7 linked regions of the Homo sapiens genome follow. The protein of the gene in region 6 purifies or fractionates together with the protein of the main gene of each other region. This does not show direct contact. Each region holds a gene or a part of one and is shown on either strand. Other genes may lie near its edges. The genes, in order: CCDC138, PPT2, TOR3A, NUCB2, NID1, ANGPT4 and TBKBP1.

Region 1 (4,445 bases), on a different chromosome or scaffold from region 6:
ACCTGTATGGCAGTTTTTTTTGTAGTTCGTTTTTTCTTTCTTCAGGACAGTTTTGCTCATCACCCAGGCTGGAGTGCAATGGCACAATCTTAGCTCACTGCAACCTCCACCTCCCGGGTTCAAGTGATTCTCCTGCCTCTGCCTCTCAAGTCGCTGAGATTCCAGACGCACACCACCAAGCCTGGCTAATTTTTCTATTTTTTAGTAGAAACGGGATTTCACCATGTTGGCCAGGATGGTCTCAAACTCCTGACCTCAGGTGATCCACCCGCCTCGGCCTCCCAAAGTGCTGGGATTACAGGCGTGAGCCACCGCACCTGGCCCATAGTTCCTTTTCTAAAAAAAAATTTTTAAAGAAAGGGAGCAGAGTCTTCATTTGGGTCCTGAATGAATAACCATAAAAATATATTTTTTCATCTTTTACATTATATAAATAACTTTCCATTATGCCACTAAATATAATGCTAGGTCTATGCTTTTATTACAGAGATTCTCAGTAAAAATTAATAAGTGACTCGCTTCAACTATTTAGCAGGCTCCAGACTGCCTTATACTTGTCCTCATACTTGTCCTCAGGAAAGAGCAAAAATATAACCTGCCCTTTTCTCTTTCTCAGTTTTTTGAGATACTGAGGGGGTAGCAACAGTAAAGTTTCAGGGTACTTTACCAATTCACATTTACGTGCTTGAATAAGCTGCCCAATGGTGTTCTACAATGCTTGCTTTCATCAGAATATTTTAACGATGAACCAACTTTATCTCCAGAGTAGATATCCAAATCACCTGTCAACGACAAAGAAACCATGAAAGATTACCACAACAATATATCACAAAATATCTGGCACTGGCCATAAGTCTAAATAATACTATTTTTAAAATCTTCTCTCTCAAATTTTTTTTTCTTTTTTTTTCTTTGAGACGGAGTCTCGCTCTGTCACCCAGGCTGGAGTGCAGTGGCGCAATCTCGGCTCACTGCAAGCTCCGTCTCCCGGGTTCACCCCATTCTCCTGCCTCAGCCTCCTGAGTAGCCGGGACTACAGGAGCCCGCCACCACACCCGGCTAATTTTTTGTATTTTTTTTAGTAGAGACGGGGTTTCACCGTGTTAGCTAGGATGGTCTCCATCTCCTGACCTCGTGATCCGCCCGCCTCGCCTCCCAAAGTGCTGGGATTACAGGCGTGAGCCACCGCGCGCAGCCTATTTTTTTCTTTTTTGAGACTGAGTTTCGCTCTTGTTGCCCAGGCTGGAGTGTAGTGGCGCCATCTCGGCTCACTGCAACCTCTGCCTCCCGGGTTCAACCGATTCTCCTGCCTCAGCCTTCCCAGCAGTTGGGATTACAGGCGCCCGCCACCATGCTCGGCTAATTTTTTGTATCTTTAGTAGAGACGGGATTTCACTATGTTGGCCTGAGTGGTCTCGAACTCCTGACCTCAGGTGATTCGCCTGCCTCGGCCTCCCAAAGTGCTGGGATTACAGGCGTGAGCCACCGCGCCCAGCCTCAAATTAAATTTTTGAAACCCCCAAATATACAAAATACCGGCTTACCTGGGGAGGTTAGAGTTCTTCTCTTATACTTAGACTGATAAAAATTTGAAAAATCATACTAAAAAAAAAAAGAAAAGATTTAATTTGTATACTAAAAATCAATTTACTGTCTCAAAATATTTCCCCACAAATTATGTATTAATTACAAAGGTTAGAGTGGAGAAATCTTGTAGACACCATCTTAACCAAGTGATCAAAACTAATATCATCAATAATGTGACAAACCAACGTCATGTTCCTCCCCACAGCAGGCCACACATCACTCATCTCATGCTCCTGCCAAAAATGCATAATCAATCTAACGAAGAAGCATCTATAAGATAAACCCAAACGGAGAAACAATCCAATAAATAATTCTTACACTTCTCAAAAAAAAAACAACCTTACAGAAAACAAAGGCTGTGAACCTGTTCCAGATTAAAGGCAACAAAAAGGACAATCAAATACAATCAATGCTCGTTCTTGGGTCGGATCTGCACTAGGAAAAAATTTTCCTATAAAAGGTTTTATCGAGATAATTGCTGAAATTTCTTATGAACTCTAGATTACCAAATATTATACCAATTCTAAATTTCCTGAAAATATTACTGTGGTTATTAAAAGACAACGTCCTTATGCTTAGGAAAAATGCACAAGTTATTTCTATTCAGAGGTAAAGGGGCATGATGCCTGCAAATCACCCTCAAATAGTTCAAAGGGAAAAAATGCGTTTGTAGGGAGGGAAGGGGAGAGAACGAATGGTAAAGCCAATGTGGCAAAATATTAATTTGTGAATGCAAGTGAGGGTACAAGGGAATTCTTGGTAATACTGCAGCAACTTTTGAGTAAGTCCGAAATTATTTCGAAATAAGCCGCTTTTAAAAAGCAATTCAATTGTTTTCACAACTCCACTCACATCACTGCAAAAAAAAGCTGAATAGCACTTTCTCCAACACCACACCATGCCCAGTATACCAGGAACACAGAGGCATAGGTGAAGCGGCACCCCCGCACCCCCGCAGCGCAACGCCCGCCCCTCCCGCCTGCTTCCACGAGGCCCAAGCCGCAGCCACGGCGGGAGTGCCGGGGCCGGGACCAGAGCCGCTGCGCGCCCCCAGGCCGGCTGCGCGGGGCACGGAGCGGGCCGCCCCCCAGCAGCAGGAGCCCACCCGCGGACCTCAGGCGGCGGCTTCACCTCGTCGGGGCAGCTGCCCCCGAGTCCGTAGCGGCTTTTGAGACTCTCCACTACTAAATCCTGCCCCGGTGGCTTGACGACCCTCGGCTCCATAGCACACAGCAACCGTACCAGTCTCCCCGGGAACCGCGTTCATCAAACCCGCGGCGCTACGCGGCCGCAGTGCGTCACGACGTGCCAGACCCCGCCCCCCCGAGGCACGCACGGCGGCAGGGAAAGGGCGGGGCGGGGCGACCCGGAGACTGCAGCCCGGCTTGTCAGCGCGTCCTCCAAGTTTCTCGTGCTAGCACTACACACCTCGTAACTGAGTAGTATTGCATCTCCCCGCGATAGTCCTGCCCCGGCTGCCTGGGTGCCACGGGTTGAGGGGCACCGAGGCCCCGCACCTGCCTGCAGCGCTCCGCTCCAGCTCCATTTAACCTGTTAAGTTTGGTGTGCGTTGCGCTCACCACATAGACCGGTCGTTCCATCAGAAGTGACCTTTGCTAACTGCCATATAAAAGAAAAACCAAGAGTATATCTGAGCCGGGAGTGGTGGCGCGCGTGTAGTCCCGGCTGCTAAGGAGGCTGAGGCGGGAGCATTGCTTTGAGCCTGAGAGTTACATCTATCTTGGGTAACATAGCAAGACTCCCATCTCTTAAAGTTAAAAAAAAAAAAAAAAAGGGAAAGCTGAGCATAGACATTGCAGATTACCTCACTTTCCCTGTGTTCCATATGGGGTATAACAGGGTATTAAAAAGAATAGTTAGAATGTAAGCACCCTGGAAAAAAAACTTTTTTTTTTTGAAAAGAAAAAAGCTTTTGCCAATACCTACAACAGTGCTAACCATAGTACATAGTATACATCAACCTGAAAACCTATGTTAAACAAAACTGACTGAGGGGAACTGTACAACCACTTCATTTTTCTCATTCATAAAATTACAGTGGTGTAATCTTTTACTTTCTAAATTGTGACTGTCAGCTGCATCTCTGGACTAACAACTCCTAAATTCTCTGGATTAAAGTTCCCAAATGCCCAAGTTTTATAAAATCTGTACTTCAGCAGTTATTATCTGAAAATTACTTAGGCCATACTTTTTGCCATAAAGTACCACTTAAGATGTACAAATAATGAATTTTATTCTATCTTTAAGCAGATTTTAATGAGACAACATAAAATCCAGTTTAAAAGGAAAGATACATATTATCGTGGGTTTAGACCACATCAGTGATTAAATAACAAAGAGAAATCAAAGTCCTTTCCTGAAATGTGACACAAAGACTTTCTCATAAATGCCACAAGCCACTTTTAAGCATCTTTGGAATACTAATACGGGAAAAGTCAGTTTACATGTCATTTTGTCAAATTTTTGGTCAAAGTTTTTAAAGCTTTTTAATTTGTAACTTTAGTGCTTTAGGAAAGCATACAAATCTGTAAAAAGTCTCTTAAAAAGCACTTGCATTAACTTAAGAATTTATTCTAAAATCATGACGAAGGCATCAACTGTCTCAGCTGAAAAGTTACAACACACTTTACATCAGTTTATATTACATAGATTTCCAAATAAGCCAATTTGAAATATTTAGTGTAAACATATGTAATCCATGGTTCAAGACTGAACTGATACATTTGGAGTAGGTTTATTTCAAGTATCTGGCTTTGTGGCCGAGTGGAATGGTGATGGTATACCATCACTCATTACTCGCACAACATCCCTCCCCTCTTTTGACTGGTGGTTGAACA
Region 2 (4,340 bases), on a different chromosome or scaffold from region 6:
GGGTTCAAGCAATTCTCCTGACTCAGCATCCTGAGTAGCTGGGATTACAAGCGTGTGCCCACATTCAGCTAAATTTTTTTTGTATTTTTAGTAGAGATGGGGTTTCACCATGTTGGCCAGGCTGGTCTCGAACCCGACCTCAGGTGATGCGCCCACCTCCCCCTGCCAAGATATTGGGATTACAGGTGTGAGCCACCACACCTGGCAATAGCAAGTACTTCTATCTAGTATCTACTATATGAGCCAGGTACTATTCAAAGTACATTGCATTCATTTATTTATTTAATCCTTACAACCACCTGGTGAAGTACATGCTATAATATTTTACAGATAAGGAAAACTGAGTAACAGAATGGTTAAGTAACTTGCCCAAAGGCACCCAATAGGGTCAAGATTCAAACCCAAGTATTCTGGCCCCATGGTCTGGTCTAGAGGTTGGCAAACTGTGACCAAAGGACCAAATCCAGCCTGCTACTTGTTTTTGTAAATGAAGTTTTACTGGAACACAGGCACATTCATTCACATATGGTACATGGCTGCTTTCACACTACAACAGCAGAATTGAGGAGTTGTGAAACAGACTATATGTCCTACAAAGTCAAAAATATTTACTCTCTGGCCCTTTATAGACAAGGTTTGCTGACTCCCACATCAGACTAAACCTTCTAAGGCAATAAGGTGACACACTTAAAACATTCTGGGCCAGGTGCAATGGTTCACACCTGTAATCCCAGCACTTTGGGAGGCCGAGGCGAGTGGATCACCTGAGGTCAGGAGTTCGAGACCAGCCTGGCCAACATGGCGAAACTCCATCTCTACTTAAAATACAAAACTTAGCCGGGCATGATGGCGCCTGCCTGTAATCCCAGCTACTAGGGGGACTGAGGCAGGAGGATCACTTGAACCTGGGAGGCGGAGGTTGCAGTGAGCCAAGATGGTGCACTGCACTCCAGCCTGGGCAACAGAACAAGACTCCGTCTCAAAAAAAAAAAAAATTCTGAACAGAGCCTGTTCAAATAACTCAATAAATGTAAGTTATCTTTATTGTCATCACTGCTATTGGTTGTAGCAGAGGTGGAAGCAACTGACCTGATCCATGGAAGCCCCAGTTCAGCATCCCCACTCACCATGCCAGTAGTTGCAGATGGAGAATTCCTGGCCCCAGGGGCTATAGCAGATCCGATAGAGGTTAGACCGCATGGAGGTGGGGAACAGCCACTTCAAGTAGTCCGTGTCTGGCAAGCGAATGGCAATGCTAAGTGACCATAAACCTCTGTTCCCCCAAAACTCAGGGCATTCTATGGAGTCTAGTGCCCACTCACCTCCATACTGTCCCATCTGTGGAGAGGAGAGGGAGATGAAAGAATCCACGTTGTGATCATCCATGACAGAAAGCAGAGCCCGGCACACAAGGCCCCCTGTAAGCAGAACACCACATTGGGCAGGCACTTAAGGACAGCAAAGCCAGCAGCACCCCCCACCCCCACCACACACACACACACACACACACACACACACACAGAGACACACACAGACACACACTGTACACAAAGGAGACTGAGGCTTACAGAAGGCAGGCACACCCTGTGCCAAAAGGTCACACATCATATAAGTGACTGAGCCCGAATTAGATGCTGGGCCTCCTGCCTCTAGTTCTAGGATGTTTTTACCTGCCCCATTAGCCCTTATGTCCAAGAACCATGGGTAACAGGAAGCAAAAGGGCAGCAGTGTAGGGAGCCTCCCTCCCATTCAAGACAGAGATGAGACCCAGGTGCTGAGGGAAGTCAGAAAGGAAGGGCTCAGGTACCAGGGTTGTGCCTGGAGCAATGTGGTTCAGAAAAAGGGACGCTAGGAAGTGTCCCTCAGATAAGGATCAAGCCTCAGATAGGGCTTAGGAGTTAGGGGCAGGGGAGTCGCCTACCCTGCGAGTAGCAGATGAGATGCACCCCTTGAGGGGCCTTTGCCATGATGGGGACCACAGCCTCTCGGAACCCTTGCACCTGTTCCCACAGGGGTCGCAAGCTCTCTCTCCCATCGAAGAGATCGAGCACTGTCACCACAGTCCCGGGGTGTGTCTGTGGGAAGGGGGCAATGCAGCCACCGGGGATAGGCTAAGAAGCTCCCACACGCCACCCCCTGGCCCGCGTCCACAGGTCTATTGTACCCTGCTAGAACCAGGGATCCCGTCCCCCAACTCTCCCCCACGCCAGCACCAGCTCCCTGAGGAACTGGGCAGGCCCAGAGGGGTGGCTTTCAGTTCCCCGCTCTCCCTCCCCTGCCACAGTAGACGCCTCTAACGCCCTGCACCCAGGTGTCCCCTGCCAGACCTCATTGATGTATTCCAGCAGGTGGCGGAAGCTGTACGAGCTGTCGAAGAGCCCATGCACCACGATGACCGGCTTGTAGGACGCGCGGTGGGGCGCGGGGGCTGCAAGCAGCAGCAGCGGCAGGAAAGGCAACAGAAGCAGGACCCACGCCGCGGGGAGCCGCTGCCCGCAGAGCCCCAGCATGCTCCCGCCTGAGAAAGGGGTGATAAGGGCATGTGAGGGAGATGGCAACACCCTCCTCCCTCGGAACAGACGCCCGGCAATCAAGCCACCTCCTCTCGCTCCCACACCAGGTCCGTGTCACAAAATAGCCTACTTTTAACTTACTCCAGCCCTCTCCCTACAAACACACCCCCCCACCACGTTGACGCACCAACGCGCACCCGAAGTCCCGCCTCCAACTCAGCGTTCGGGGGACTTGTTCTCTAGGTCCAGGATCTTCCTAATGCATCGCCTCAGCCATGAACAACGCGGAGTTCTTTAATACCCGTGAGCAGCAGCCCAGGCCCCTTGAAGAGTGCAGACTCCCACCTGGCCTGGGTCCGTAGGCCTCGCTCCACCCGCTGTTTACTTATCCCAAGTCTGGAACCCACGGTGGCGGGGGGAAGGGTGAGGAAAGAGAGCGCAGGGGAATGACGGATGGGAGGGGGAAGGGCGGGCTGCTTGGGGTCGCGCAAATCCGTCACGTCCGGGGCTTTCTCTGGCAACCGCGCGAGCGTTCCCCGCAACACAGACCCAGGACAGGAGGGGCAATGGAATATTCCATTGCGCCCTAGGTGCTGGGGAGGAAACAGGCGGAGCGATCCATTTAGGCCAGTGGGGAGAGGAAAAAGCAGCAAACATATTCTGGGAATGGAAAGAAGGCCTCTCCAGGCTTCGTTGCCCCCAGCGACCCAAAAGTCCGATTTCCCCGCCTTGATTCTCCCCACTTCCCAATACAGGCGTCTGGCTCCGCAGCAGAACACGAAGTTTGCATTCCCCAAGGGGCGGCCAGGGGGCGGACCAGGGAAAGGTAGTCCTCTGCATTTTGCCGTGTGCTGGGTGAGTGGCAGGGTGGCCTGGAGGGCTGATGCCAGCCCGGGCGTGCCCCTCAACACCCACCCCACCCCACCCTCCAGTCCGCCCCAGGTCAGCGACTTACAACTCTTCATTCTGAAGTGCGTGTAGTGCCCTTGTCTCCAGAGACGCAGAGAGTCCTCGAGGCCCCTTGAGCTAAGTGCAGCCTGGCCCAGTTTCTCCTGCCCTACTCTACTCCCCTCCCTATAAGCGACCCACCCTCAAGGGGCGGAGGGCGCGTAGGGATGCGCTGACTCATGCCCGCGTAATTTCGACCAGTCTTTCAACCTGAACGACCCCCAGAATCTGGCTGTCTGAGTTATCTGTGGGTGGCTCCCTACCGAAACCCCCAGGCGCCCCACCTCTCCGCCTGTGACCCCTAACCGACACCCTAGTGCCTCAGGGCTTTTACTTGCTAGGGCTTTTACTTAGCATTTAAAGACGTTTCTCTAGAGATAAGGATTTCTCAGCATGTCTGAGCCCCTCTCTCTGTTTACAAGGTCATTGCTTGGTCTAAATTTGTCTCAATCAAAACATTTTTGCGCTCAGAATGGTGTAGAGTGACGATGAGGTGGCGGTAAGGGGTTGAGCGCTCACGCGAACGCCTAAGTGACCAGAACGACTGGTGTGAAGCCGTGATCTGACTCTGTGGAGCCTGGGACTGGTTTCAGCGAGAGCCTCTGTACTGCTCTGTAGTCTCTGCTAGGACATGGACGAAAAGGGACGCAGCCGGGAGAGCGACTGCCCCAGGTGGGGGCTGGGGGGACGTAAGGGAAGAATAATAATTATCTGGCTGTGTTTTTGTTTAAAAAAAAAAAAAAACTGGTGTAAATCTCCATAGACTTCCTATCCTCGCTCCCTTCACCCACCCACGCGCTCCCAAGATGCAATAAGCAAATAAAAAGACTAATAACGCTGTACTGCAGGTCGACTCAGGAGCTGGAGATGCGTCTTGG
Region 3 (3,758 bases), on a different chromosome or scaffold from region 6:
AAACAGGGAGCCCTGAAACCAAGGGATGGGAGCAGCCTCAGGACATGGGGGACAGGGTTCCTCCCTAGACAGGTCTGTGCCAACTGTTCTGGGTATCTGCAGGATCTTTAGGAAGGGTGATTCCACTCTCCCTGAGTCCCATCTTGATTTCCCAAACTCTTCAAAAAGTAGTCCTTGAGGCTGGGCGCAATGGCTCACGCCTGTAATCCCAGCACTTTGGGAGGCCGAGGTGGGCGGATCTCGAGGTCAGGAGTTCAAGACCAGCCTAGCCAACCTGGTGAAACCCGTCTCTACTAAAAATACAAAAATTAGCTGGGTATGGTGGTGGGCACCTGTAATCCCAGCCACTCGGGAGGCTGAGGCAGGAGAATCGCTTGAACCAGGGAGGCGGAGGTTGCAGTGAGCTGAGATTGCGCCACTGCACTCCAGCCTGGTGACAGAGCAAGACTCCATCTCAAAAAAAAAAAAAAAAAGAAAGTAGTCCTTGAATCCCTTCTGCTACAAAGTCTGCCCTCTGGCTTCTTATTCTAAGGCCAAACAGGAGGAGTAACTGATTCCACCCGAGAGAGATTCAGAGTTGCTTGGTTTCTTGGCTGTTGGCTGTTGTGGTGGATGGGCCTGTGTGTGCCTTTTGCTGTGACTACCTCTTTCCTGTCCTTAGGCTTAGAGTGGGACCTGAATGTGCGGCTGCATGGCCAGCATTTGGTCCAGCAGCTGGTCCTAAGAACAGTGAGGGGCTACTTAGAGACGCCCCAGCCAGAAAAGGCCCTTGCTCTGTCGTTCCACGGCTGGTCTGGCACAGGCAAGAACTTCGTGGCACGGATGCTGGTGGAGAACCTGTATCGGGACGGGCTGATGAGTGACTGTGTCAGGATGTTCATCGCCACGTTCCACTTTCCTCACCCCAAATATGTGGACCTGTACAAGGTGAGGCCGACCAGGGCTGGGGTGAGGCCTCTGTGCTGGGAGGGAGACCCTTCTGCCAGCCCTTCCTTGCAAGGAAATGGGCTCTGGAGAAGCCTGGGGAGGTGGGGACAGGTGGCAGAACCTGTGACAGAGCCACTCCGTCCACTCCTCACAGAGGCCCTTAGCATGTGGAAGAGACTGGCGTTCCAAACACCACCCCCTGCTCTGTCCCCAAACAGCCACACTCGAGAGGCTGGACACTGCGCTTAAGCAGGGACGCTGCATGTTGATTTTTGTTGTAGAAGTAGTGAAATGTCACAGACTGCAGTGTAGAACAGAGAAAAGCAAAAACTGTCAGACTCTCCACACGGACACACCCTTGTCAGCTAAGGAGAGGTAGCATTTTATGTGCTGCCTTTGGTGCGGAACCTTTCCCCAGGCTCTTTGTCATTGTAACTACGTTGGACAGAAAGTTGTATATCCTGCCTTTTTAAAATTTAAACAGGCCTATTGGCCGGACATGGTGGCTCACGCCTGTAATCCCAGCACTTTGGGAAGCCTAGGTGGGTGGATCACGAGGTCAGGAGATCGAGACCATCCTGGCTAACACGGTGAAACCCCGTCTCTACTAAAAATACAAAAACTTAGCTGGGCGTGGTGGCGGGCACCTGTAGTCTCAGCTACTCGGGAGGCTGAGGCCGGAGAATGGCGTGAACCCGGGAGGCGGAGCTTGCAGTGAGCCGAGATCGTGCCGCTGCACTCCAGCCTGGGCAACAGAGCAAGACTCCATCTCAAAAAAAAAAAAAAAAAAGAAAACAGGCCTATCCTATCTTACCTGATTTTTTCATGTCTTCCCGTATCAGCTTATTATATACCAGCAAGTGGATGGACAGAAATTTCCTTGGCTGTTCTGCCATTTTGGGTTTCTTCTACTAATTCAGCCATGTAGTATTGAAAACATACCAGAAGAGCCTGACAGAATTGACTGCACCTGTCTTTGGCTTTGTTTTAATATTTGGAATGTGTTCACCTGGGAAGATTATGTCAGCGTCTGAGGACAGAGGCTGCCCGCGTCTCCTGGCAGTTTCCATATGGCTTTGGAGGGCAGGGGCAGGCTGAGCTGGGCCTTTCCGGGCAGAACTGTCTGGCTTAGACTGTGGCAAGACTGCTGCAGCCCCAGCTTCCCTGCTGTGAAAACTGGCATGTGCATAGCCCTGCACCTCACACTTTCCCCCACAAAGGTGCACCCAGTAGACAGGGAGTGTGGGCTCTGGAGTGGGAGCTGGCCCTGAATAATATATTCCCTGCCCATTTCGATGAACATTGCAAAGAACCATCTTTTCACTTGAGGGTTTACTGTCTTGCCTGGGGCAAGGAACCCTCCACAGCTTGCAGGAGCCAAGTTGGATGTTGGTTAGGCCCAGTCAGTCCTTCAGCAGGCTTGCTCCCCTGAGATCTCGGCCCAGCCAGGGTGCCAGTGGGCGCTCTGCACCCGGGAGTTCAGGGCAGGGGACTGTGGCTGCCTCTGGGCACATGAGCCTCTCTTTGCCCATCACCCCTGTATGAAAGCTCAACTCCTATCCACCCCCTGGGAATAGACCCTGAGCTTAAACAGGGAAGTTGCGCCTGGATGTTTTTGTTGTAGAAGTAATGAAAGTTTGCGGGTGTGTGGACATTGTTAGCTCCTGGATGGGATGTAGTCCTGGAGAGGAGAGAGCAGGGCTGGAGCAGGGGCCCCTTCTCAAGGGCAGAAGGGCTTCTCCCCACTCCTTTCTAGGCTGTCTCCTAGTCCCCAAGCTGGCTTCACCTTGTTTAGCTTTCAACCCTCAGGGTGCTTGAGAATCACCTGGGAGCTGGTCAGATGCAAATGTCCTAGGCCCTCCCCAAGAGCTTGGATTTGATAGGTTCTGGCGGGGGGCGGGGGGTGGGGAACCCAGCCCCAGGGGGTCCATTGCACATGCCCAGGGGAAACCACGCCCTCAAGGCCGGAGGTGGAAGGAGTCACCACTTCCCCAGCTGCTCCCTATATCCCGTGCAGGAGCAGCTGATGAGCCAGATCCGGGAGACGCAGCAGCTCTGCCACCAGACCCTGTTCATCTTCGATGAAGCGGAGAAGCTGCACCCAGGGCTGCTGGAGGTCCTTGGGCCACACTTAGAACGCCGGGCCCCTGAGGGCCACAGGGCTGAGTCTCCATGGACTATCTTTCTGTTTCTCAGGTGGGTTCTGGGGAACAATAGTCAGGAGGGCTGGGGGAGGGGAAGATACTAGCTGGCAGTGGAGGCTTCCACACGCCCCCAGGTTCAGAACCTTTCCTCAAGAAAAAACAGCACAAACTCTGGTACAGAAAGCAGCAGCCAGCTGTGGTAGCTCACGCCTGTAATCCCAGCACTTTGGGAGGCCAAGGCGGCCGGGTCCCTTGAGTCCAGGAGTTCAAGACCAGCCTGGGCAACATAGTGAAACCCCATCTCTACAAAAAATATAAAAATTAGCTGGGCGTGGTGACATGTGCCTGTAGTCCCAGCTACTCGGGAGGCTGAGGTGGGAGAATCGCTTGAACCCAGGAGGTGGGGGTTGCAGTGAGCTGAGATCGGGCCACTGCACTCCAATCTGGGTGACAGATTTTTTGAAACAAATTCCCAAGGCAAGCCTGGTTAGAGAACGGCATAGTCTCCCATCAAGTCCAACACGGCCATTTCTTCCTTCAGCCTTGGAAGTCTGTTTCTTCTCCGATTATGAGAAGTCATCACTGGCTTAAAATCCAGGGTATACGGGTTGAGAAACCCATGCTTCCTCTGAGTACCTGTAGTTCAGTTGTGACGCTACCATGCGGGACCCAGTCACTGAATCACTG
Region 4 (3,758 bases), on a different chromosome or scaffold from region 6:
TACCAAAATCAAAACTAAAGCTGACAACCTCTCCAAATCCTCTTGTACAGCTGTTACAGGCTGTGGCAAATTTCGTTACAAAGGTGTAATCTATAATGGTCAAAGAAATTCACTTGATAGTTGGGATGTCAGCAGTCAACAGAGACCCCAATTTAGCATTTACCACTCAAAAATTCAGATGAAAGTTACTGAAGCAAAATAGTGGGATTCAGTTACCCTGCATATGATGCCTATATCAGAGTTTTTGGCTTAAAGGGAGGAGAGGCAGAGCAAGAACTGCAGAGAAAGGCAAATATTTAAATGAGCGTAGTCATTGGATGGACCATGGACATTTGAGCACAGACTCGGTGGAAGTAAAACCTTGTGATGATCTAGAAAAGGGGTATTCCAGAAAAAAGAAATATTAAGTCCAAATGCCCTAAAATGGGAACAAGCTTGATGAGAGGTAAACATCAGAAGGCCAGAGGAGAGAGAGTCACAGAGAGCAAGGCAAGGATGAAGTCACGAATCTTTTGGAAATAGGAGGGATTTGGGATCATATTACAAGGGAAATTGCAAGCCACTGAAGTATTTCTGTGCAAGAGAGCACATGACCTGATTTATGCTTTTAAGAGCTTACTCTGCCTACTTATGAAGAAGTGTCTGCAGTGGGGTAAGGAATAGAAGCAGAGATGCCAGTTAGGAGACTTGCTTGGACTTGATTGGTATTAAATAGTAGTGGAAGTGGGGGGAAGTGGTCAAATTCTGGATCTGTTTGAAAGATAGATCAGACAGAACTTATAGAGGAAATGCAGGATGTGAGGAAAGAAGTTAAGGATGACTTAGCCTGAGCAACTAGATGAATTATGATTCATTTGTTGAAATGAAAAAGGCTGAGGAAGGAACAGATCTGGGTTTGAAGAAGATGTGAGTTAAACACAAGGAGAACTGTCAAGCAGATACAACCCTAGAACTCAGAGAAAGGAGACAGCTGAAGATAAAAATGTTGAACTCACCAGCATACATGCAGATATAGAGCATATATAGAGACATGGGGCTCCACACTATCACTTAAGGAGAGAACGAAGCGAGAAAGGAGAACACGGCCAAGGGATGGGCCCAGGGCAATGCAACATGTAGAACTTGGAAAGAGGAGGAAGAGCCAGCAAAGAAGAGAGAGTGAGGTATGAGGAAACTGAGGAGGGGTGGTTTCCTAAAAGCCAAGTGAAGAAAGCATTTCGAGAAAGAGGGAGGCATCAACTGTATCAGCACAGATTAAGGCGAAAAGGAAAAGTGAAGAATTAACAGGAAGAGGAAGAATAGACAACTCCTTGAAGAGAAACAGAGAAATGAGGCAGTAACCAGAGGTTGTTGTTTTTGTTTTTCAGTACTGAAAAAAGGGTTTGCTTTGGTTTGGTTTTGAGATGGAGTCTTGCTGTGTCACCCAGGCTGGAGTACAGTGGTGTAATCTTGGCTCACTGCAAACTCTGCCGCCTGGGTTCAAGCGATTCTCATGCCTCAGCCTCCCGAGTAGCTGGGATTGTAGGTATGCACTACCACACCCAGCTAATCTTTGTATTTTTAGTAGACACAGGGTTTCACCATGTTTGCCAGGCTGGTCTCGAACTTCTGACCTCAAGAGATCCACCTGCCACGGCCTCCCAAAGTGCTGGGATTATAGGCATGAGCTATCATGCCCAGCCCAAAAAAAAAAGTTTTATACCTGATATGCAGTAGCATCTTTATCTTTTAGAATATTTTAAAGTAGTTACAAATTATTTTATTCATACTAAAGGCATCTAGTATAATAATCTGGATCAAAAATGCAAACTTCAGCCTGGGCAACATAGCAAGACCTTGTGTCTCCAAAAATTAAAAAGTTAGCTGACAGCCTGGGCAACGTAGCAAAGACATGCTGTCTCTTAAAAAAAATAAAAATCGGCCTGGTGCGGCGGCTCATGCCTGTAATCCCAGCCAGCACTTTGGGAGGCCGAAGTGGGTGGATCACTTGAGGTCAGGAGTTTAAGACCAGCCTGGCAAACATGGTGAAACCCCATCTCTACTAAAAATAAAAAAATCAGCCAGGCGTGGTGGTGCATGCCTGTAATCCCAGCTACTCAGGAGGCTGAGGCAAGAGAATCACTTGAACCCGGGAGGCAGAGGTTGCAGCGAGCCAAGATCGCACCACTGCACTCCAGCCTGGGTGACAGAGTGAGACTATGTCTCAAAAACAAACAAAAAAGGCCAGTGGCTCATGCCTGTAATCCCATCTATAATCCCAGCACTTTGGGAGGCCAAGGCGGATGGATCACCTGAGGTCAGGAGTTCAAGACCAGCCTGGCCAACATGCTGAAACCCTGTCTCTACTAAAAATAAAAAAATTAGCTAGGTGTGGTGGTGGGTGCCTATAATCCCTGCTACTCAGGAGGCTGAGGCAGAGAATTGCTTGAATCTGGGAGGCGGAGGTTGCAGTGAGCCGAGGTCGCGCCACTGCACTCCAACTTGGATGACAGAGTGAGACTCCGTCTCAAAAAAAAAAAAAAAATATTAGGTAGGCATGGTGGCTCCAGCTTGTGGTCCCTCCTCAGTCTCAGGAGGCTGAGACCAAAGGATTGCTTGAGCCCAGGAGGTTGAGGCTGCAGGGAGCCATGATTGCACCACTGCCTCCAGCCTGGGCAACAGAGTAAGACCCTGTCTCAAAAAAAAAACAAAAACAAAAACGCAAACTCCATTTAAATACAAATTCTGTATATTTTCCATCTTAAAGATTTATTGCAAGAATTAAATAATACATAGAAATAACATATTATCTTAAACTTTTAAAACATACCTCATTCATTACATGTTCCCTCATTCTAAGCCTTTCTTCTTCCATTTCTACCATATCATCCTCTTCATTTTTAGGGTCATATACTTTCTCCAACTAAAAAGAAAAATTTTAAATGAACATGAAAGGAAAGAAAGTAACAGGAAAAAAAGAGAGAGAACAAGAACACTGAATACTTAATAAACTCCTTTACCTCTTTAGTAAATAGGGCTTCTAATTCTTGTTCATCCAGGAATCCATCACTATTGACATCTAAAGTTTAAAAGTTACAAATGCAAAAATAGATTTTAATAACTTAGAAAATAATTAAAATACAATGATTTATAAAGGGTTTACAAAAGTAGTACTGATGTGAAGCATCAATAGACTGCAGAAAAGCATTTATTCTTTGTCATGAAGCTTTAGATCAGCTGAACTGATAAATATGCTGTATTTATTTGTAATTCATAATCATTTGTAAGGAAAGCGTATCTTGACCATTTTTTTCCAAAAATATAAAGTAAAGCAATATTCTATGAGAGTAGAAGTAAAATGTAATATTATAGTATAAAGCCTATTAGATATAACCTAGCTAGTCACAGTTTAGTTTTCACTTAACAGAGAACTTTGCAGTAATTCATATGACTCAACAGTAAAAGCCAGTATAAAGACAGAGCTACTAATCTAAAACATTTTATACTGCAGGTGAGCAATAAAGACTATCATATTACCCTAGAAAAACTCTAACCATTTACTCTCACTAGAACTCAATAGCAGACCTTGGCAGAAATCAATTAAGAGGAAAGCAAATACTTTTTCAAGCAGCAGATATAAATATTAATATTTGTATCAAATCGTTACCATGTAATTTGAAAAATGTCTTGGGGTCAAAGTCATTAGGATCCAATCCATCAGTCTCTTCCCATACCTCTTTTAGTTGATCTTTGCTTCCCTGTGAACCAATTTTAAAAAA
Region 5 (3,019 bases), on a different chromosome or scaffold from region 6:
AAACTAAAAGGGGGATCACACACAAGAAGGAGCCCACTATCTTAAATGGCTATGGAGTCAGATCAGAGAGAGGGCTATTGAACTGATTTCTGCCTTTTCCAGGCCATAACTACTGCTCAGTGAACAATGGCGGCTGCACCCACCTATGCTTGGCCACCCCAGGGAGCAGGACCTGCCGTTGCCCTGACAACACCTTGGGAGTTGACTGTATCGAACAGAAATGAAGACAAGAGTGCCTTATTTCCTTTCCAAGTATTTCACAGCAACACTCTACTTGAAGCAACTTGGTCCAGATTGAAAAGTGTCCTCTGGCTGAGTGGCCACTAGGCCCAGACCCAGCCCAGCCTGAGCCCCAACAACTTTTCCCTCACTGTTCCCCAAAACATGCACCCTGGACTTCTCTAATAGAAAAGTCTCCACCCCTACACAAGGACAGAACCCTCCACCCCTACCCCCAACCCTCAGACAGACTTATACACCCCTGAGTGAGGATTACATGCCCATCCCAGTGTCCTAGGACCTTTTCCCAATACTAGCCCCCCAGTGGTGAACAGAACCTCCCAAATTTGAGTTGCACCCTTCCCTGTGGCCTTATGAGCTCAGCCTCGCTTTGAGGTACCCACCGTCCTGTCAGCTCCTTGACCTATGAGCCGGGGCCTGACTAGGAAAAGTTGGGAGTTAAGGAGGAAATTAGCATTCCTTAATGTTTTGTTTTGGTGCTCTGAATTTCTTCTTTATTATAGTCCTATAGTTTTACTCCTCAGTTCCTCACCATCATCATCTTGTCTAAGACCCCCATTATAATATTCATGCGCTGCTTTTTCATCAAAACCTACCCTGTCCTAGAGATCTATGGGCATTTGGTGGATGATAATGAGCAGCCCCTCCCAGATAGAATGTCAATATTTGAGCAGTAGGATATTGGCATTTGTTAGTTAAAGGCTTAAATCAAAAGAATGTCCAATGGTAGGAATTTCAAGGTGTAGGTCAGATATTTGAGAATAGGGGATTTTTTTGATGTGCCTTAAATTATACCAAAGATTACTAATTATTCCTCTTTGCCCAAAATACTTGCATCCAAGGTTCTAGTCTCTGTTGCTGTGCTGGTCTTTAGCCCCACTGCTTGCACTGATGTCCCTCCTTTTCACGGAGACCTATCTGAGGTACAGGATGGGGCTGGCACCAGATGATGTCCCACCACAGTCCCTCACCTCCGGCCTCCACATGACAGAACCAATTTACACTCAACCATGACCTCACCCCTCCTTGGTTTCTCCCTCGATCTGTGGCCCTTTTTGGATGTATTCTTATCTAACAACACAATCCGGAAAGACTGAATTGAATATTTATACTAATGGTTCATATCCTTTATTGCTCAATGATCTAATTAAAGGGATCATTGCCACATTTCATGTTTATATTTCTACAATTTGTTTAGAAAACATCTCCTGACCATATCAGTAGCTCGTGTTATCTTTTTATCAACTGCTTCCCAGAGTCCTAAAACAATAGAAATTTTGGATTGAAAAGTTCAGCATAAGGAGTTTGAGTCAGTAAAGGATGGGATAAAGGAGTCGAGATGATTCAATGAAAAGTATCACAAAAAAGAGATTGATCAACAAGAGAAATAAAAAAGCCCAAGAGGAAGTGGTAGGGGAAGGAATTTAAGAACAGCAATAAGTAAAACTCTTAAGTAACTCCAAAAAGAAAATGGTACATTTTGCCAAAGACCACTTATACTTGAGAACATGGAAGAATTTGCCTGATACTCTCTTTGGGGAAAAGAGTCTCTCCTCTTTTCCTCAAACCCCAGTACACTCAGCCTCTCTGCCCCACCTTCTCCTGACTTTGTCCTCACTTGCTTCTGCAGTACATTGGAACCTGAATTGAAAGAAAGTCTTCCTTGAATAATTGGAGTTTGTCTTGAGAGGCAAATATAGCCCCAAGAATCACAAGATTCGAGGACCATGTAGGTCTTTTACGTAGCCCAAATCCATAAATTAGTCTCACTTTTTGTATTTATCGTTTCATATTAAACCCTCTATATCAAATGTTCATCATGATTTTGTATGATTTTTATAACTATTTTATTCATTTTATTAGATTTATTCTAAAATTTTTTAATGGTAAATTCTTAAACTGTGGAAACCACTGAAGGTGCTTATTAACTGTTCTCCCAGATTTGTACAAGTATTGGATGATTCCTTGAGTTTACAGCTGTACAAATAGTGTGGAAAATAAACTTTTTTTAAAAAAGAAAATCTTCCTCTATCTTTTCTGAATGAAGAGATTTAATGTTGGGAGGCTGATTCATGATAGACAGACAGACAGCCACTTAATAATCTGCAAAACCTGTGGAGCCCAGAAACTCTTATCCCAGTATTATGAGAGCTAGTATGTTTCTCAACCACAAAAAACCTTAGGGGTTGTAATTTACCTAAAAATGAGTGCAGTGTCTCACACCTGTAATCCCAACACTTTAGGAGGCCAAGGTGGGTGGATCACTTGAGGCCAGGAGTTTGAGACCAGTTTGGGCAATACAGGGAGACTCCATCTCTGCAAAACATCAAAAAAAAAAATTAGCTGGGCATGGTGGCACACACCTGTAGTCCCAACTACTCAGGAGGCTGAGGTGGGAGGATTGTTTGAATCCGGGAGGCCAAGGCTGCAGTGAGCTATGATCGTGCCACTGCACTCCAACCTGGGCAACAGAGTGAGACCCTATCTCAAAAACTTAAAAAAAAAATAAAAAATAAATTATATTATAGATTTCAAGCCACCCTTTTGGATATTGTTTTCATTGAGAAAATATATTCTACAAGCAGGCAATAGAAAAAGTTTTCTGATTCAGCTCTGGAGATAAGCTATGTTTTAATTCTCTTTTTACCTCCAGAAGGAAGAAAGATGCTTTCCTGGCACTGGCTATGGAGTGAGACCCCTGGTCTGTTCTAAGCTGCCACCAACAGGCAGTGCCACTCATGCTGGCCCCTGGGTGGGATGAGAATGGCCTCTGAGTTGA
Region 6 (3,758 bases):
AGGAGACTGAGGTGGGAGGATTGCTTGAGCCCAAGAGGTCAAGGTTGTAATGAGCCGTGATTGTGCCACTGCACTCCAGCCTGGCAACAGAGCAAGTTGCTGTCTCTAAAGAAAAAAATGTATATGTATTAGCCATTATTATCATTATTGTGACCATTATCACTTCTCTCCAAGACTCAGGTTCAGTGAGATAGGGGAGGCCTGGCATACAGTAAGTGCTTTGTCCCTGGGAGGCAGCAGGCAGGGAAGGCAATCCAGGAAGGGAAACAGCCCAAGCACTCCACCCAGGCTGGGGCTGTCCCTCCAAGAACACCTGGAGGGGAAGCCCAGCCTGGGACAAAGCCACTGGGGAAGTTCTTGCTCGACACAGCCCCAACCTGACTCTGGGCCCTTCTGCCACCACCACCTCTGGGTGGCCTCCAGGCTTTCTGTGGTCGGGTACAGCGGCTCAGCAGGGCGCCAGAGCAGCCTGGTCCTGCAGAACACCAGCTTTAGCACCCTTGACTCAGACAACGACCACTGTCTCTGCAAGTGTGCCCAAGTGATGTCTGGAGGTAGGTGCAGGGTGGGGTGAAGCTCCGCCCACCCACAGGCTCACCCAGATTGACACTCCCATTCCCTCCCCAGGTTCTTGTGCGCCCAGGTGCTGTCAGGAGGATGGGTGCAGGTCTGGGCCTTGCCCACCCATAAGCTCACCTGGCTGTGCCCCTTCGGTGCCTTCCCCCATTGAGTCCTTGAAGTCCCCTCCAGGTCTCACCTCCTCCTAAAGCTGGCACCACCAGTTTTCCTCAGAGACAAGGCTAAAGAAACACTGAGTGCAGGGCCCCGGGGGGGAGGCACCCTATACCCTATCAGTCCCAACCCCAGGCAAGCCGAACCAGGATCAGGAGACCAGAGGGAGGCAGAGGGGCAGCTCCACACCAGCTGTGGCTCAGGCAGTGTTCCTTGGTAGGCACAGAGGTCAGAGAACAGGAAGTGGGGTGAATGGGAGACAGAGACAAAGTAAGAAGAACAGAGACAGGGGGAGAGACCTTCTGAGACACAGAGGACAGATGGAGAAAGAGAGAGACACCAAGGCTGTCAGAGTCATTGAGCAGCAGATGGAGAGCTATACTGGGGCAGAGAAGTACAGAGGGAGATGGGGGAGAAAGACTTAGCCCAAGGAGAGGCCGGGAGACAAACACAGCATGTGAAAGATGGGGGCCCAGAGGAAGGGAGGGCCAGAGACACGAAAGGCAGAGAGGGACAAAGACCATCAGAGAAAGATGAACACAATGGGACACACAGAGACAGACCCACGCACAGAGACCATAAGAGAGAAAGAGATGAACCTGGAGAGTGAGAGACTCAGAGAGAGTGACAGAGACCACTAGAAAGCAGTGAGCAGAGCGATGAGGGGAGGTTGGGGAGCTGGAAAGACAGGTTCAGTGAGGGAGGAAGACAGGGACGCCAAGGGCTCAGGGAGAAGGCCGGGAGGAGCAAGGGGGCTCGAGGAGTGGCCAGAGCCCCTTGCTGCCCTCTAGAGGCCCCGGCTGAGCAGAGGGTCTGTTGTCCACCCCACCCCCACTCCCACCCAGCCCCATCCCCAGCCAGCTGGCTTCCCAGAGGAGGCAACAGCCCCGATTAGTCTTTGTTCTCTTTGGGACACAGGGGCTGCCCTCTTGCCACTGGCTGGGCTCCCACCTCCACCAAGCGCCTGTCCTCCCTCTTCCACCAGGGTGGTGGTTTGACGCCTGTGGCCTGTCAAACCTCAACGGCGTCTACTACCACGCTCCCGACAACAAGTACAAGATGGACGGCATCCGCTGGCACTACTTCAAGGGCCCCAGCTACTCACTGCGTGCCTCTCGCATGATGATACGGCCTTTGGACATCTAACGAGCAGCTGTGCCAGAGGCTGGACCACACAGGAGAAGCTCGGACTTGGCACTCCTGGACAACCTGGACCCAGATGCAAGACACTGTGCCACCGCCTTCCCTGACACCCTGGGCTTCCTGAGCCAGCCCTCCTTGACCCAGAAGTCCAGAAGGGTCATCTGCCCCCCAACTCCCCTCCGTCTGTGACATGGAGGGTGTTCGGGGCCCATCCCTCTGATGTAGTCCTCGCCCCTCTTCTCTCCCTCCCCCTTCAGGGGCTCCCTGCCTGAGGGTCACAGTACCTTGAATGGGCTGAGAACAGACCAAACTTGATTCCCATGACCAATGGTGGGGTTGCAGGCAGGTGGGAATGTATTTGCACATCGGAAGCTGCCCAGATGGCCCAGGTTCTCTCCCTTGGATTGGCAAGAAGGCCATCTCCCATTCTAAGCTCCTGTTCCAAGATTTTCTAGTCTTGAGATGTCCTTGAACTTTCTTTTCAAGTCTGAAGGGGCTGCATCCACCCCTTAGTGGGTGGGTTAATCATTATTTCCCCTTCACACTTCACCACTTCTAGGTTCTAATGACCCTAGATCTCAGGGTCTTTAGACTTCACCACTTCTAGGCTTTACCACTTCACCACTTCTAGGCTCCAATGTTTGGAGCTCAGGGTCTTTAGGAGACCCAAAAGGACATGCTCCTTCACCTCCAGCATGTCCTAGAGGATGTGTCACAGGGAATAACTATGGCTTGTCTCTAAAAGTACCTATGAGCAATGAGAAAAGGAAACAGCAGGTTAAGTCAAAGTGAACAGGCACTCTTCACTGCAGGACTGATCAGAGCCTTTAATATGGCCAAGTGCCTTGTGACTACCCATGAAGGGGCTAGAGTGGGCAGCTTTCTCCAAATTTACTTATTTGAAAATGGGCTCGGTTTGTCCCAGAGCATCTCACAGGACTGTAGATGCTCTTGGACAAAGCTAGTGCTCCCCTGGCATAAGGAGGAGCCCTACGACCCCATCCCCACCCCAGCTATACTCACCCTTTTTGGCTACAAGGGCCACAGTGACAGCCTCAAACAACCTCTAAAAACAACTGGAAATAACCTTTCAGTTAAAACAGATACCATCCCTGAAGAAGGGTCTAGAACTAGGTCCCTGTCTGTGTTATAGGCTCATGTCCTCCAAGGCTCCTTCAAGTCCCAGGAAGCTGATCTCTACCTGGGTGGCTTCCCTTAGGACTCCCTGTAACCTCAACTCCCCCAGGCTCAATTACAGGGACTGTTAGGCAGGACATCTGTCTCCAAGTCCAGATCCTCTCTGCCTCCAAGCCCTAACCCCTAGCCTCCCTCCCTTCCCCATCCAGCAGTGATGCTGCCTCTGTGGTGGTAGGTGGGGAGCTGCAGGGGAGGAGATAAGGCCTCTGCCTGAGTTTGGGAGACCAGGGCCCTCATAGCTTCTTTCAGAGGATGGAGTCAGAAAGGATCCACAGCTACTCTGTCACCTGCCCCCATCACTGTGTCATGCTGTCTGCCCTGTTGTCATCAGCCAACACCCAGGCATAGCCAGGAGCCCACCTGCCCTACCGCCAGGATACACCTCTGTCCTCAGAAGGTTTTCTCCTGGATGAGACTGAGCCAATGGGAATGGGACCCCTTCATCCCCCTGGCTCGCCCCAGCCCTGAGTCCCACTCTCAGCCGATCCCTGAGTAAACCCAGCACAGACTGACTTTGATCTCATTCCTGGGAATTAGCACTCTTCCCCTTCAAGACTCAAAGGACATGGTTGCTAATGGTGGCATTTCAGGCATGATGGGAAATCTTTAGGGGCAGATTGCTGCCCAGAGAGCTCAAATCGCCTTAAGCAGCATTTGCCCAGCAGACCTTTATTTAGCCTCTACTG
Region 7 (4,434 bases), on a different chromosome or scaffold from region 6:
GCACCTCCGGCTCCCCAGGCCTCACCATCTCCCTCAGCTCTGTCTCCAAGTCACTCTTCTCCACGCAGAGTTTCTCGTAGGCCTGGATCATCTCTCCAAGCTGTTCTTCCTGCTCCTTGTTCTTCTGTAACTGGATGAGGCCCAGAGGGCCCCACCACAGGGTCAGTCCCACACTGGACTTGGAGTTGGAGAGCTCCCTGCACCTCCCCACCCCCACTCCCAGCACCCTATGGAGGGGCAGGAGGAGCTGCAGCTGGGCTTAGGGAGGACCTGGCCATCTCTAATCAAAGGGCAGAGGCCAGATGCTGGGGGGTGTGGAGGGAAGGGTATCAGAAACAGACTGGAGCAAGATGCTCAGGGGGTGCGCCCAGCCTGGTAGGCTCACCTCATGCTGGAACTGGTTGAGCCGTTGCTGCAGGCTGACCTTCTCCACCTCCAGCAGGGAGCCATCCTTGATTTCATACAGAGAAAAGCCATGCTCCTCTCCAAAGTCACTGATCAGTGGGTACTGCAGGTGGGGTGGAGCTTCAGGAGAGTGGATTCCCGGGTGCCCAGCCCAGGCCTCAGCCTGGCTGTGCCCCCAACCCACAACCTGCCTCAGACCTTTGACCCTCCTTCTCCTTGGCTAGTGGGATCCCAATTCCCATGGGTCTGTAGCCATCTCCCACCCACCGGATCTGTTTTAGATCCCAGATCCAGCCCTTCTGAAGCCAACAGGAGACAGTTCGCATCCGGAACAGCCACGTCTCTCATGGGAGACCCTCAAGTTCCCAAGAGTCTGCACAGTGACCCCTCTTTTGGATCCCTGGTATCTACCAGATTCCCAGTCCCCCTCCCCATCCCATACACTCTATCAGGCGCCCTCCTCTCCAAGTTCTGACCTTGATCTCGTAGACTTTGAGGCGGCGTCGGAGGGTGGCGTTCTCCCTCTCCAGGCCCCCCAGCCGTTCCTTGATGTCTCCGTAAGCAGTGATGAGGGCAAAGTGGGAGGCGGAGCACATGTCGCCCCCAAGCGAGGGGTCTCCGGGACTGTCCAGCCACACCTCACTAGGCCCCAGGGCCTCCTGCGTCAGGATGCTGATGTCGTCCTCGAACATGGACTCCATGGTGAGGGCCGGGCCGCGGCCCACACGGGGCCTCCTAGGAGAGCAGGAGCAACCGTGGACAGGGCCGTCTGTCTAGGGTTTGTCCCTGGTACCCCTCTCCCTGGCTCTGCACTCCCTGGGGCCGGCTAAGATGCAACCCAGAAACTTCCTGCCCCGAGCTCAGCAGGGACTCCCATGGCCCCTTCCCAGACTCCTCAGCCCCATCCTCTCTGCCGCCTTGGGGAAAAGGGGCTGGAACCAGGTGAAGACCCCGCTGCCAGGGTGTTGACAAGTAGGGACAAGTAAGCCAGGCCGGCAGCAGGGGCAGGCTCCTGCCAGAACCCAGGGAGACCTGTGGATGGGAGAGGGCTGCCTTCCCAGCCGGGCCCGGCCCATTCCTCCGCGCTTCTCCACCCCAGGCCTTACTTCCCCAAATACCTCGCCGCCAAGCTCCTCAGCCTGGGCCTCTGGCACCCCAGCTCCTCCCCAAGGAAGGCCCAGAGCTGCGCGAGGGTCGGCCCCTCCACAGTCGGCACGCCCTCGGCTGCACCCCCGCCCAACTTCCCCACTTCCTCCCGCAGGATCCCAGAGTTCAGGAAAAGGAAGCGCCTCCCCCGGGCGCACCGGGGCTGTGGCAGCGGTCCAGGACCCCTTGGCCCCTGACCTGGGACCCACAGGAAGTCCTTGGCTGAGTGTTACGGGGCGCAAACTGGGGAAGGGGACCCAGGTGGAAGGGGACGCGAACGAATTCCCAAGGCTGTCTCAGGGTGCCCGCGCACCGGGAAATGGGGAACCCTACGAGGGGGCAGGAATGACTCAGGCTCCCGAAAGCAGGAGTAGGCAGTGAGGGGGTGCGTGTGTACTTCTCTCGGGCCTGGTTATGAATGTGTGTCTGGGGTTGGCGTATGGGGGGAGTGTGCGTCTGTGAATGAGTGTAGGTGTGTCAGTCAATGAGTGCCTTCGGGGTCGCAGGGGCGTCGGGACGGAGTGGGGCAGCGACCAGGAGGCTGGTGTGTGCACGCGTGCGTGAGCGCGTGGGCAGGGTGGCACGTCCGGGCCGCGTGTCACGTGAGACGCGAGGGGACTGTCCGAGGTGTGTGCGCGCGCTGGAGCGTTATGTGCACCCCGGAGAGGGGGCTCGGCAGGGAGCTGTGAGTTCAGACAGCGGGGCCCCCAGGTCGGGCTGCAGGAGCTTGGGGTGCAAAGGGCTCCGGCGCAGGCTCCAATTCAATCCACCCCCCCCCCTCCGCCACCCACAGGCCCATCTAAGTGCCAGGGAAACGCGAGTGACTGGGTCTGAGTAAGGAGTGTGTGCGCGCGTTTGTAGGGCCGGCCCCACCTTTAACCCTCTCCTTCCCACGCCATCCCCTCCCCCCAGCTCCGCGCGCCAGCGCTTACCACACCCCCCCAGACCCCCGCCCGCCCCTCTGCGCCCACCCCGCTGGCGGGGCTCTGTCCCCGAGGCCGCACCACAAATGCCTCCTTCCTCCGCATTCCTCTCTGGGCCCAGCGCCCGGGTGAGCGCAATGGAAGGCGGCTGGGGAAGGGGTGAGTGCCTCTGTCGGCCCGGGCCCCTCCTGCGGCCCCTTTAAGAGCCGCCCTTTAAACCCCTTTCGCTCGGCCGACAGAAATTGTCGCCCCTCCCCTCTCGGGGGCCGAGACCACGCAGCCCCCTCCCCCACAACCGGCCGAGCCCTGGGCCCCCGGACACCCTCTCGGGGCCGGGGAAGGGGCTCCGGGAGTGGCGCGGCCTGAGGAACGGCGGCGGAGGGGGACGCGAGGGGATGAGGGCGGCCGACACCGGACCCCTTCCCTCCCAGCCATCCCGTGCGGCTGCCAGCCGCCCTCCTGCCGCCTCCTCCTGCCCACCCCGCGACCCCTGGGGCCCAGCCCGGGCGCCGCTCCCCTCCCCCAGCCCTAGCCCCAGCCGGGGACTCACAGCTGCTGCCGGTTCCTGCTTGTAATCGCAGCTTACCCCCTCCGCCTGCTCCCTCCCCAAACGGGCACCAGTGCCCCCACCCCCCTGGTACCGCGCTCTGCTCCTCGCCCTGTCGCCGCCGCCGGGTCTCTCCCCACCCCCCACCCCTCCCCCCAACCCCCTCCCTCCCGTCCGCCCCGCTCCTCCTCCGCCGCCGCCGCCTCCTCCGCCTCCTCCTCCCCGGCTGCTCCGGGTTTCTCCAGCTGGGAAGGCGCCCCGGACCCCGCCGCTGCCACCACCACGTGGCGAGAGGCGGCGGCCCCTACGGTGCGGCCCTTCCTGGCAGCGCGCCCGGAGCCCACCGGCTCCCTGCGGCGCCAGCGGCCCGCGCTGGCGCCCCCTCCCCGACGCCTCCCGGCGCAGTGTGGCGTGGTGGCGTGTGTTGGGGGCGTCTGCGGTCAGTGCAGGGGCCCGGCTGATGCTTTGGTTGTTTTGGTTGTTTAGTTATGGGCTGTATATTTGGGGAGGAAGTGGGGCTATTTATCTGGCTTTTTTTTTTTTTTTTTGGTCTTTGCGCTTTTGAGAAGGAAATCATTAGACCTGCTCTTCGTTGCTCTTGGTAAAAGGGGCATTGCTGCGATAAATACATTGAACATAGGGTACAGAGAGATTAAAGCTGTAACTTCTTTGGAAGTGAGAGTAAACTAAGGAGGTCAAAGATTCATTCATGAAGAAGGACAGCCATCTCCCTCCCCACACACCACTCCCCGGCCACCCTCAAGTACCCACAGGTCAGGGAAATGAAGAAACAACAGATGTCACCCTGTGCACAAAGATTATTTGAGCACCTGCCAAACTGCTGGGCAAGAGAAACAAGTTTTTTGCTACTTTCCTGCTGTGTGACCTTGGGCAAGTTACCTTAACCTTTCTAAGCTGGAGATCATGCCCCACCTAAGCACTCTCATGGAGGAAGAATGGGGATCAGAACTAAATACAGCAGCCTGCGAATGCTCAGGAAGTGTTAACGATGTCATTTTGAGTATTGCCTGGTGGATTAAATAATGTGGACAGAGGCATGGTCAGCCTAGCTGCAGGTAGAGAATGATCAGGGGAACCCTGGAGCACTCTGGCTGAAGAGCATCCTCTGTGGACAGGGAGGCAAAGCCCGGAAGCAGGGGATAAGCTGGGCGGGGGCTTTTGGCAGATTCAGCCTTAGCTGCGAAGACTGCTGGGAACCTGAGCCTACCTTTTTGGCTCCTGAGGTGGGATGGGGGTGGGAATCTCCGAGGGGGAGGATGGAAGGAAAAGGTTTCTTGCTCTCTCTGAGCTTTGAAAAGCAGCAGCTGCCATCTTTCCTCACTGCTGGGAGAAAATTGGACTGAGAGGTGAGCTTCTACCAGGAGAGCCAGCCAGAGCTCTAGACTCATTCTC

The links.
Region 1: the proteins of ANGPT4 (region 6) and CCDC138 purify together in Homo sapiens (affinity purification with mass spectrometry; one large-scale study listed by BioGRID and IntAct). This does not show direct contact.
Region 2: the proteins of ANGPT4 (region 6) and PPT2 purify together in Homo sapiens (affinity purification with mass spectrometry; one large-scale study listed by BioGRID and IntAct). This does not show direct contact.
Region 3: the proteins of ANGPT4 (region 6) and TOR3A purify together in Homo sapiens (affinity purification with mass spectrometry; one large-scale study listed by BioGRID and IntAct). This does not show direct contact.
Region 4: the proteins of ANGPT4 (region 6) and NUCB2 purify together in Homo sapiens (affinity purification with mass spectrometry; one large-scale study listed by BioGRID and IntAct). This does not show direct contact.
Region 5: the proteins of ANGPT4 (region 6) and NID1 purify together in Homo sapiens (affinity purification with mass spectrometry; one large-scale study listed by BioGRID and IntAct). This does not show direct contact.
Region 7: the proteins of ANGPT4 (region 6) and TBKBP1 purify together in Homo sapiens (affinity purification with mass spectrometry; one large-scale study listed by BioGRID and IntAct). This does not show direct contact.

Annotation. Positions count from the first base shown.
Region 1 is NC_000002.12:108,785,189-108,789,633, reverse strand, and holds the start of CCDC138 (coiled-coil domain-containing protein 138), read right to left. Parts: upstream 2,864-4,445; 5' UTR 2,855-2,863; coding exon of another isoform or gene 2,812-2,854; coding exon 2,719-2,811; coding exon of another isoform or gene 2,701-2,718; intron 1,603-2,700; coding exon 1,545-1,602; intron 783-1,544; coding exon 668-782; intron 1-667.
Region 2 is NC_000006.12:32,152,766-32,157,105, reverse strand, and holds the start of PPT2 (lysosomal thioesterase PPT2 isoform a precursor), read right to left. Parts: upstream 2,966-4,340; 5' UTR 2,702-2,965; intron 2,520-2,701; coding exon of another isoform or gene 2,512-2,519; coding exon 2,329-2,511; intron 2,077-2,328; coding exon 1,923-2,076; intron 1,419-1,922; coding exon 1,323-1,418; intron 1,236-1,322; coding exon 1,128-1,235; intron 1-1,127. UniProt on the Homo sapiens protein: Catalyzes the cleavage of thioester bonds from S-palmitoyl-CoA or S-palmitoyl-N-acetylcysteamine (unbranched structures) but does not have activity against palmitoylcysteine or palmitoylated proteins, branched structures or bulky head groups.
Region 3 is NC_000001.11:179,084,967-179,088,724, forward strand, and holds part of TOR3A (torsin-3A precursor), read left to right. Parts: intron 1-661; coding exon 662-927; intron 928-2,944; coding exon 2,945-3,123; intron 3,124-3,758.
Region 4 is NC_000011.10:17,311,172-17,314,929, reverse strand, and holds part of NUCB2 (nucleobindin-2 isoform 1 preproprotein), read right to left. Parts: intron 3,738-3,758; coding exon 3,647-3,737; intron 3,059-3,646; coding exon 3,000-3,058; intron 2,903-2,999; coding exon 2,810-2,902; intron 1-2,809. UniProt on the Homo sapiens protein: Calcium-binding protein which may have a role in calcium homeostasis. Acts as a non-receptor guanine nucleotide exchange factor which binds to and activates guanine nucleotide-binding protein (G-protein) alpha subunit GNAI3.
Region 5 is NC_000001.11:235,975,072-235,978,090, reverse strand, and holds the end of NID1 (nidogen-1 precursor), read left to right. Parts: intron 1-102; coding exon 103-224; 3' UTR 225-2,261; downstream 2,262-3,019. UniProt on the Homo sapiens protein: Sulfated glycoprotein widely distributed in basement membranes and tightly associated with laminin. Also binds to collagen IV and perlecan. It probably has a role in cell-extracellular matrix interactions.
Region 6 is NC_000020.11:871,080-874,837, reverse strand, and holds part of ANGPT4 (angiopoietin-4 isoform 1 precursor), read left to right. Parts: intron 1-423; coding exon 424-554; intron 555-696; exon of another isoform or gene 697-1,717; coding exon 1,718-1,878; 3' UTR 1,879-3,758. UniProt on the Homo sapiens protein: Binds to TEK/TIE2, modulating ANGPT1 signaling. Can induce tyrosine phosphorylation of TEK/TIE2. Promotes endothelial cell survival, migration and angiogenesis.
Region 7 is NC_000017.11:47,692,785-47,697,218, reverse strand, and holds the start of TBKBP1 (TANK-binding kinase 1-binding protein 1), read right to left. Parts: upstream 3,059-4,434; 5' UTR 3,025-3,058; exon of another isoform or gene 2,556-3,024; intron 2,470-2,555; exon of another isoform or gene 1,141-2,469; 5' UTR 1,107-1,140; coding exon 882-1,106; intron 509-881; coding exon 386-508; intron 131-385; coding exon 26-130; intron 1-25.